2 separate regions of the Homo sapiens genome follow, and region 2 is linked to region 1. Evidence: fine-mapped QTL for protein levels in blood plasma. Region 1 holds a variant in brackets. A gene starts in the other region. All regions are shown on their forward strands. Region 1 overlaps UNC5CL (unc-5 family C-terminal like). Region 2 holds the start of CCL20 (C-C motif chemokine ligand 20).

Evidence for each region. PIP is the posterior inclusion probability: the model's chance that the variant is causal. The UK Biobank Pharma Proteomics Project read protein levels with antibody pairs (Olink). The fine-mapping took linkage between variants from a reference panel, not from the people measured, so its PIPs are less certain.
Region 2: it holds the start of CCL20, and the variant in region 1 is fine-mapped to the plasma level of the CCL20 protein (UK Biobank, PIP above 0.99).

What each region holds. Positions count from the first base shown.
Region 1 is chr6:41,029,502-41,034,879 of GRCh38, forward strand. UNC5CL (unc-5 family C-terminal like) reads right to left here. Exons shown (of 9, transcript NM_173561.3): 2 at 5,189-5,378; 3 at 4,380-4,680; 4 at 3,383-3,645; 5 at 2,535-2,636; 6 at 2,180-2,247; 7 at 1,154-1,254; 8 at 887-1,000. Among named protein-coding and RNA genes, the nearest start is that of UNC5CL, 7.0 kb to the right of the region's middle. The variant T/C (reference allele first, on the strand shown) is at 927.
Region 2 is chr2:227,811,123-227,816,500 of GRCh38, forward strand. CCL20 (C-C motif chemokine ligand 20) reads left to right here and starts at 2,720. Exons shown (of 4, transcript NM_004591.3): 1 at 2,720-2,865; 2 at 4,332-4,446; 3 at 5,185-5,262. The coding sequence starts at 2,790.

The sequences.
Region 1 (5,378 bases):
AGTGTGTGCGCTCCTAGGCGCCGGGACCATGCCTCATTCATCTTGTATCATAGTGCTTAGCACAGTTTCCAGGGCATAATAGGTACTTGATAAATGTTTAAATGAATGATTTAAAAATCCACCCTGTAGTTTGCAGACCAGCCTGGCCAACCTGGTGAAACCCCGTCTGTACTAAAAATAAAAAATTAGCTGGACATGGTGGCGTGTGCCTGTAATCCCAGCTACTCGGGAGGCTGAGGCAGGAGAATTACTTGAACCCGGGAGATGGAGGTTGCAGTGAGCCAAGATTGCGCCATTGCACTCCAGCCTGGGCGACAGAGCAAGACTCCGTCTCAAATAATGATAATAATAATAAATAAAAATCCACCCTGTTTTCAGGGTCCAGCTCTAGCCCCATCACCAGGATAAAGTCTTCCCTGACCGCTGCACTCATAGTGTAGTTTCTGGAGCTTAGCTCAGTATTCTCCTGCTTTCTGAGTTCCTTGACAGGGATCATGACTGCACTGTCACCATTATTGATAACATTTATTGAATTAACAAGTGTCAGGCACCCAGCTACATGCTTTACACACATTATCCTATAATCTGTCTTGCTCCTCCTCAGGGCATAGCATGGCAAGCACTCAACATGTACCAAATAACTTCCATGTTAATGGATTCACTGTTAAATGTTAATTGAGCACCTACTATGCACCAGGCATCATTCTAGGTACTGATGATACAGTGATTAATAGAGCTGCCCTTTTATGGGAAATAGGGTGGACAGTAGCCATTCTCTGACTTTTAAGTCACTCCCTTGCCTGTGATCCAGTCTCCAGAGTGTCCTGAGGAACCCCATTCCAGCCCACCCTCCTCTACCATCCACAGACCTCACCCCTCTTCCTACCGGATCTTCATGCCGCAAAGCCCCAGGTGGGAGGCCAGTC[T/C]GCGCCAGTCATTGCCGGTGATGCTGTTTGGCTCCAATAACATCCGCAGCTGCTCAAAGAGCTCTGGGGGCAGCCTTAGGCAGGGAAAAGGGTGTTCTTGGAAGAAAGGGACAAACAGACCCACTCTGGTTCTCCCATATGCACCCTAAATGCTGTAGTCACCCTGTGGGTGCCAGGGTAGGAACCCAACATCCCCCAGGCAGCAGCCCAAGCAACCCCCGTCTCACCTATTGCATGGGGGCGGCTGGGAAACAGGTGGTGGCGCTGCCCAGGATTCCTCCTCTGATGCCTGGAATCTGAGGATTTCCATATACTTGGTCTCCAAGCCCTGAGTCAACACAGGGCAGGGAACACACTTAGGGGTCACAAGCCATCCCCCTGAGTAAGAAGCTGGAGTCCTACCTCCATTCCTCATGTCTCTCCTTCAGTCTGTCACTCAGAGCCACCTTACCAGGAGATACAACCCTGCTCCACCCAGCACCCTCTACCCACTGTCTCCCTGTGACTTCAGAACCGCACCTTCAGCCTTATGTTTGCCCCTGAGCTCTTTGGGAACTGGGACATGAAGACCAGAGTGCAGCCTGAGCCACCAGGGGAAGTCCTGGGTGGGGCCGTGGAGCAGTGGGAGGTCATCCAACCATAGAGACACTGATCTCAGCCATATGTGTACCTTCCTCCATTCCAACCTTCCCTTCCTCTTCTCCAAGTGACAACAGGGTATCTGCCTGCCCTCCACTAAGGTGCCACTATGGTTCCCCAAAGACTCTCAACTCCGATTTCTTCGCATCTTCCCTTGGTGCAGCAGGAGAGGAGAGATACCTAACTCCCAGCCTGCCTACTCAAGACCCTCTTCCTGGTCACTTCCCACACTGAAAATACAAAACATCATCTCTCAAATCCCACACTGAAGATACCAAACATCATCTCTCAAATGTAGACAATCAGCCTAGAAAGAAACCATATCAACTTGATGCCCCAGTTCTCTGAGTTGGGAGAAGGGGTTAAACTAGGGTTTGGTTCTTTTAGCTTCCTGCTGGATTCATCCACCGATAGACAAGGAGAGTCAGGGATGAGGGTAACTTGGAGCCCAGATGATCTCAGCCCCTCAAAGAGCTGGTATGGGGGCTCTATGGAAAGTGCCATCTTTACCTATGTGATTAAGACCATAGTTACTGGGCACCAGACCCTGTGCCCACTTTGCCTAGGATTTCCCCCAGGCCCTGCCCTTCCTCTGCCCCTCAGCTCCAACTCACATCCTGGAAGGTGTGCATGGTGACAATGATCTCATTGGTTAGTGCTGAACAGTCCTCATTCTCATCGGCTATAAAGAGAAGGTGACAGCGTGGCCAGTGAGTGAGGAAACGGCCTGGGGTAAGAGCAGGAGAAGGTAAGGGACTCTATAGTAAGACTTGGGAAATCTGAGGAAGCTGGGGTCCAACACTCCATTTTTCTCTCTGCAAAGATCTGTGTGGCTCCTGGCCTTTCAGGGAAGGTCTGTGTGCATGGCTGCATGGGGGTCTGCAGAGCTCCAGGGTTACTGGGAGGGAAGGAGAGGAGACAGGATGGGAAAAGAGAGGGGAGGAGGTACACACAGGGCTCCCGGACTACCTGCTTTTCTCCGGAAGCAGAAGGAGCGGAAGGGGCACTTTCCATGCCAGATGTGGAGATGGGGAACCAGCTGGCAACTGCTGTCATCCACATTCTCCCAACCTGGTGAGTAGGCAGACAGCAGAGGGCCTCAGAGAGTGGGGCCTTAAACAAGTATTGAAGGGGGCTGTGGGGAGGCATGAGGACAGAACAAAGGCAGGAGGGTCTCAAGGGAATGGGAATCCCCAGAGCCTGGGCTGGGACCCCAAGAGGGCCCTTGCACTATAAAAGCCTTCCATCCTTTCCTGCTTCTGTGGGGTATAACCCCTCTCCTTCCCACCTGCCACCTGGCATCACCCTGTCCAAGGAGTGAGTGGCAAGGGCTCAGTAGACAGCAGAGTGGTCAAAGCCCTGGGGGCTCCATGAGGCTACTGCTGGCCCAGAGGTCACAAACAGACTTGGGGCCTGGTGTGGTGGCTCACACCTATAATCCCAACACTTTCAGAGGCCGAGACGGGTAGATTACTTGAGGTCAGGGGTTCGAGACCAGCCTGGACAACATGATGAAACCCCGTCTCTACCAAAAATACAAAAAAATTAGCCAGGCATGGTGGTGGGCACCTGTAATTGCAGCTACTCAGGAGACTGAGGCAGGAGAATAACTTGAACCCAGGAGGCGGAGGTTGCTGTGAGCCAAGATCAAGCCACTGCACTCCGGCCTGGGCAACAGAGCGAAACTCCATCTCGGGAAAAAAAAAGAGAGAGAGACTTGGGATCCCCAGATCTCCAGATGTCCAGGGGAGGCCCAGAACCCTTCATTCCTGTGGGGCTCCCGATCATCCTATCCCACAGGCCACTGCCTCCCTCACCCTCTGAGATGTACGTGAGCTTCAGGCACTGGTCGCCCCTAGCCCCATTGAAGTCGAAGAGCTGGCAGGGCCCACGCAGGCGCCCACCATGGGGCTGCTCGTTGGTCAGTGCCCACTGCAGGGCGCAGGGCGTGTTGTTGAGGAAGTAGATACGCAGTTGCAGATGGGACTGTCCTGGCACCAGCGGTGAGCAGAATACGGCCAGCTGCAGCCATTTGCGGGCTTCGCGCCCCACAGGTGCCTCCAGCACACAGGTGTAGAGGCTGCAGAGGGAGCCAGTGGCAGGCACTAATGTGCAGGGAAGGCTAAGACACCAACACACTGCCACCAGCCTCCTGCCACCTGAGGGGCCTCTGTGGGGCCTTCAAGGAGGTTCAGAGAACACTCGAGGGGAGCACTTAGGGAGGAACTGGTAGGTTGGGGATGAAAAGTGAGCATGTCACAGTGACTGGTGACTGAATGGGGAGGAGAGCTGGCAGGGGAGAGAGGGAAAGTGGGCTCAGGGTGACCATGCTTGGGAGGGCACCCGCACATGGCCCTATTCCTGTCAATGGGTGGCAAGGAGGCTGGGAGGCAGAGGACCTAGGACTCTAGAAAGACAAAGAGAAGAAGGACAGAGATGGAATGGAGTCTTAGAGAACTGGTGCTAAGCCTGGGGACAGTCCTGAAAGGGGCACAGTGTAGAGAGAGATAATTTGAAAGACAGAGAGAGATGGGAAAGACAGGTCCCTCTTAGATGGAGAGATGGTGCTGAGTCAGACACTTCCAGACAGACAGAGAGACAGCAATGGGATTTGCAGTCATGGACATGATTGATGTGAGAAAAACTGCTACAAACATTAGGACAGAGGGGCCAGAAAGAGACACCAGGGGATAAAGGATTTGCAGACCATCTTCTATACAGAGAGATGAAGATAAGGCAGACAGAGAAAGTGGGCAGGAAAGACAGTCCTCAGAGAGATGGGTGTGGGAAGACAGGCCAATGGCATGTGCCTACCTGAAGTGGGAGAGGTGGATGCGACACTCATCCCGGGAGGCGTGGGCCCCCGGCCGCCCCAGGGGCCTCCATACCTTGGCATCCAGCAGGGTAGTGTTGCTGCTGTAGGTGCGAGCATGGCTGGGCTGCTCGGCACAGTGTTTGAACGTGAGAGTGCAAGGCTTCAGGAAGGAGGCCCCATGGGGGCCACATGCCACCACAGGGCTTACCAGCCCCTGGGCTTGGGACAGCGATGGGGCGTCCGACAGGTCCCACACCAGGATCAAAGACACCCGCTCCTGGCGGCCCACAGCCACAGCACCTGGCAGGGAGAGGGAGAGCTGAGATGGGCCTGGTAGGCAGGCACACCCCTGCCCCTGAAAGAGGCCAGGCCAGAGAGAAAGGAGGTGGGGCAGGAGCCCAGGAGAGACCCCCAGCAGGGCACACAGGGAAGTGGTATGAACAAGAGTAAGACGACTGTGGAGCTGACTTGTAGTGTAACCCTAAGCAAGACACTTCCCTTTCCACCCAGGCTGCTGCTAGCCCATAGTGTGCCTTGTGTGAATTTGCAAATGGTGCTCTTCCCTCCCTTTACTAGAGAATTGTCACAGCATACTGATTCATTAGAACAAGGCACTTTACTTCCACCTGCCAGGAAGTTGTCCCAAAAGATATGTAATATGTCCATCCCTGAAGTCAATAAAGCTATACTCAAAATATAAACAATTATCAGAAGTAAAAGGTGTCTATGAACATTGCTCCCTCAGATGTGGTGACCTAATGTACAGTCTGACCAACTGTATGCGGAGATGAGAGCCAGGAGCTGTTACCTGGTGGGATGAGCAAGGAGATGCCTGTATCCTGGAGCATCAGGCAACCGCCGCGGTGATCCACCTCTCGAGCCGAAAACACCAACAGTTTGTGCATCAACTGGCGGACCATGGTCTGGCCTTGAGTGGGTGTGTGTAGCTCCTGGTAGAAGGCAACCATCTCTGGCAGTGTGGCTGGCAGGTGCTGCCT
Region 2 (5,378 bases), not on the chromosome of region 1:
TTTGTGTCTTTCATCTCTATTCGTATCAGCTGTGAGGTGGTCATAGATGACTTTTATCAGGTTGAGAAAGTTCTCAACTATTCCTAGTTAGTTGAGTGTTTTTGTCATGACAACGTGTTGGATTTTGTCAGTTGCTTTTCAAATCATTTTTATTTTTTATTTGATTGATTTGTTGTATTACATTTCCTGGAATAAATCCCACTTGGTTATGGTGTATGATCTTTTTACTGTGCTGTCGGCATAGTAATTTTATTTGCATACAGTTTTTTTTTTTTTTTTTTTTTTTTTACCTCCCTTTCCTTTGTTTGGTTTGGTCTAGTCAAGGCTTGTTAGTTTTGTTGATCTTCTCAAAGAACTAACTTTCGCATTCGTTGATTTCCTCTATTGTTTTGCATTCTCTGTTTTATTTATTCCTGCTCTAATCTTCATTTCCCTCCTTCTGCATGCTTTGGGTTTAGCTTGCTCTGCTTTTCTCTAGTTTCTTAAGGTAGAAGTTTGGGTTATTGTTTTGAGATGTTTCTTTTTTTTTTTTTTTAATGTGAGTGTTTACAGCTATAAGTTTCCTTCTGAGGACTGCTTTTGCTACATCCTATAAGTTTTGATATGTTGTGGACTTTTTTTTACATTTCAAAGTTGTTTTCTACTTTCTCTAGTGACTTTTCTTTTGACACATTGTTGTTGTTGTTGTTGTTTTTTCCTTTGAGATGGAGTCTCTGTTGGCCAGGTTAGAGGGCAGTAGCGTGATCTCGGCTCGCCGTAACTTCTGCTTCCTGGGCTCATGCGATTCTCCTGCCTCAGCCTCCCAAGTAGCTGGGATTACAGGCATGGACTACCACACCCGGCTAATATTTGTATTTTTAGTAGAGACAGGGTTTCACTATGTTGGCCAGTCTGGTCTCGAACTCCTGACCTCAGGCAGTCCACCCACCTCGGCCTCCCAAAATGCTAGGATTACAGGCATGAGCCACCACTCCTGGCCAGACACATTGGTTATTTAGGAATATGTGGTTTCCTTTCTGTCTGTTACTGATTTCTGATTTAATTCCATTGTGGTTTGAATGTATACTTTATGTGATTTCAGTCGGTTTACATTTACTGAGACTTGTTCCATAACCTACCATATGCTTTATCCTAGAGAACATTCCATGTGCAACTATTCTGTTGATGTTGGATAGAGTAGTCCTTCGATGCCTGCTAAGTCTATTTGGCTTATAGTGTTGTTCAAGTCTTCTATTTTCTTGTGGATCTTCTGCCTAAATTTTATTAATTAGTGAAAATGTGGTACCAAAGCTGTCAACTTTTATTGTTAAATTTCCTATTCTGCTGGGCACGGTGGCTCATGCCTGTAATGAGGTCAGGAGTTCAGCCTGGGCAACATGGTGAAACCACGTCTCTACTAAAAATACAAAAATTCGCTGGGCGTGGTGGCACGTGCCTGTAGTCCCAGCTACTCAGGAGGCTGAGGCAGGCGAATCGCTTGAACCCAGGAGGCGGAGGTTGTAGTGAGCCGAGATGGTGCCACTGCACTCCAGCCTGGGCAACAAGAGCAAAATTCTGTCTCAAAAGAAATTATAATAATAAAATAAAATAAAATTTCCTATTCTTCCCTTCAATTCTGTCAGTTTTTGCTTTCTGTAGTTTGGGGTGCTACTGTTAGGTATATATATGGTTATAGGTTTTACATCTTCCCAATGGGTTAATTTTGTGTTACCATGAAAGTCCCTTTTTATTTCCGGTAACATTAAAAAAAAATCTATTTTGTCTGATATAGGCATCACCAACTCCAGTTCTCTTTTGTTTACTGTTTGGTATACCTTTCTTTTGATCCTTTTACTTTCAACCTATTTGGGTCTAGTGGAGAGTTCTTATACTGCCTTAGGTTAGGGATTCATATTACATTATCATCATTAGTACTGTTATTTGACATTTGCTGTGCTGACTAGCTACTGCTGATAGGTTTTCTTTCCTCAACAATTCTGAGGCTCTATATTGAGTTATATTAGTACATCATCATGGAGAGTTAAAGGTAGGTAAGGATTATTTTCTGAACTGCAATATTGATTAAAGCCATGTGAATGTATAAGATTCTTAGAAGAGTTGACATTAAATCAAGGTGAAGCTGAGGTTTGAGCCTTACTTAAAGGCTGATATTTTCCACTCTAACTGCGGACAGTACTGTAGCACTGTTATAGTACCTGCTCTGAATGTTAGTCTAGCAACTCAGGGTCTTCTTCATGACAGCTGAACCTCAACCATGTGATGGTAAATGTGTAGCAGAGTATGCCTGGCATCCCACCTGCTCCTCCTCCCCCTCCTCCTTGACTGGTTCTGGAAAGCAAATAGGGTGTAACAATAGGAGTTCTGGAATGTTCCTGTGTGGGGCTGACCTTTGTATCGCTGTTAATCCTCTATTTTCAGACACAAAAATGATTAAGTTAAAACTGGATGAAAGTCTTTTCTGGGTCACAGGGCTGAGCTGCTTTTGCTCTTTGCAAATACAAAGAATTTAACAGGATTCTCCCCTTCTCAACTTCCTGTCCCCCACCCTGACCTTCGCACCTTCCCAATATGAGGAAAAAGCAGGAAGTTTTCCTTGCGGGTTTTTTTTATGATGACATGATGGGGCCAGTTGATCAATGGGGAAAACCCCATGTGGCAACACGCCTTCTGTGTACATTCCCAATATTTGCTATAAATAGGGCCATCCCAGGCTGCTGTCAGAATATAACAGCACTCCCAAAGAACTGGGTACTCAACACTGAGCAGATCTGTTCTTTGAGCTAAAAACCATGTGCTGTACCAAGAGTTTGCTCCTGGCTGCTTTGATGTCAGTGCTGCTACTCCACCTCTGCGGCGAATCAGAAGGTAAGTGTCGCTCTTTCCGCTAGCACAGAAGAAAGACTATTTTCATTTTCCTTTTAGCCTTGAGCTCAACTGGGGGTCCCTAAGGGATGGAAAACTGTTAGGAAGTATACAAGAGGTAGTGATGGAAGTTGTCTGCCCATGGTGGAGTGGAGGAGAGAAGAGTTACTGCTGCGGATCAGGCTTTCCTCTCTGCTGTCAATCTCAGCAGATTTGGGGAGTGGTGGGCTCTTAGAGATCCCTAAACTTCAGGATAAAGCCAAAGTGATGTTTCTGGGAGTGATATAAAGTGTGTAATGTTACCAGTAGATGGGGCCATTTTGAAATGTAGAGAATCCTCCTGTGTCCCCAACTTTCGTACCTCCCAACTTAATAGTTTTGGTAAAGTTCAAAACTCATCCTTTAGAAGTAGATTATAATACCTGACATCAACATCCCCACAAGGCATGGGGGACATTGCTTGCCAACTTTAAAATAACATTAATCCCTTACCTTACAGCATGTTGTAATCTGACTCGGGAATGTCCAAGTATTGCTTTATTGCTCAATAGTCACACAACACTTTTAGCAACAGGTGCATTCCTAAAAATGCACATTGAATTTTTTTTTTTTTCTGAGGCAGGGTCTAACTTCATCACCCAGGCCAGAGTGCAGTGGCATGATTACAGCTCACTACAGCCTCAACCTCCTGGAGTCAAGTGAACCTCCAGTCTCAGCCTCTTGAATAACAGGGACCACGGCCGTGTGCCACTCACCTGGCTAATTTTTTTACATTTTTTTTTTTTTTGTAGAGACAGGGTTTCACTGTGTTGCCCAGGCTGGTCTCGAACTCCTGGAGGCAAGCAATCCTTCCTCCTTGGCCTCCCAAAGTGCTGGGATTACAGGCATGAGCCACCATGCCCAACCACATGTTGAACTTTTATGAACAAAATTAAACATTCCTATTAATTAATAGGACAATTTCAAAGTGTTTTCACTCCTATAAATCATATTTCCCTTTGTAGCTCTATTTCTCAATACTTAGTAGCCAGATAATAGATTAAAATCTGCCAATTTATTCATTTTCTGCTTTTGGAAGTTTATCTACATAAGGGTTCCTTCAAGCAGTAGGGAAGGGGCTGCTCATATTCTTGAATGATTATAGTGAACTGAAATGAAATATTGTCAATTTGTATTTCTTACTGAAGATATCCCACTTATGAGAAGTCCTGTGTTTCTCAATTCTATTATTGAACCAAAACTTCTCGGCACACAAACTGTTTTTTCAAAGAACTGTAAACTATGTTAGATTGGTTCTCAACGACCTTACAAAGGTTTCCAAGACATTGAAACTCCTCCTCTAAGTGGTTTATTCGTCATATACATGAGATTCACTAGATTTTTCACAACTTAAGGTAGTTTTATAATACCAATCACAGGATAAGTTTATTCATGTGGATCCAATACCTTTCACTTTTTTTTTTTTTTAGCAGCAAGCAACTTTGACTGCTGTCTTGGATACACAGACCGTATTCTTCATCCTAAATTTATTGTGGGCTTCACACGGCAGCTGGCCAATGAAGGCTGTGACATCAATGCTATCATGTAAGTTATTAATTGATTTTAATTCAGTTGTATCAGGAATACCTAGAAACTTCAGTTTTAAAAATGTTTGCCTTTTTAGAGTTTCATTCAGAAATTACTGATGTTTTGAACATAAGATCTTATTTTAAAGAGAAAGAAATGATGTGGCAAAGATAGCTTTGTCTTAGTACATATCTACTTTAAAGTTCACTTTAAACAGGACTGGAATAAGGCAAAACCTTTTTTAAAAATTTTTTTTGGTCAAACGGAACTAGTATAGGGCAAAAATCACTTTCTAAGGCTATTAAAGTGATATATTAGGAAAATAGGGAAGATACACATTTCGAAATGAGCATCTTCTACCAGAAAGTGTTTGAGACCAAAAGTAAAATCTCAGACTAATTATACTATCACATATAATTTTCTTGATTTATATAGGATATTATATTTTGGAATTATACAAGTTATTGATCAGATACATACATATTCTATGTAACCACCAATAGCAAAATTATATGACAATTCTGGGACTTTATCTTCCTGCCATTGTACTATTATTTGTTACATTGCAGAGAAAGAGAGAATCACTTTGATTTTGCATTAATCTTCATCAGAAGCATTTTTTGTGCATTTTATTTTACCTCATCAACTGAAATGTTTAGTGTGTAATCAACTGGAATATAAAATTTCCATTGTATGTTCTATGAAAAACCCATTGAAAAGCTCATTAAACACAAATCAAATTTTCTGATTTTTCAGCTTTCACACAAAGAAAAAGTTGTCTGTGTGCGCAAATCCAAAACAGACTTGGGTGAAATATATTGTGCGTCTCCTCAGGTATGTTACACTGACATTTAGCCTTTGCAAATGTTTGAGGAAAGAGGAGTGTGCAAAGGGGTGGGCCGTAGGTTTTCTGGGATTCTTTAGTTTAACTATTGTGGAATTTTTAAAGG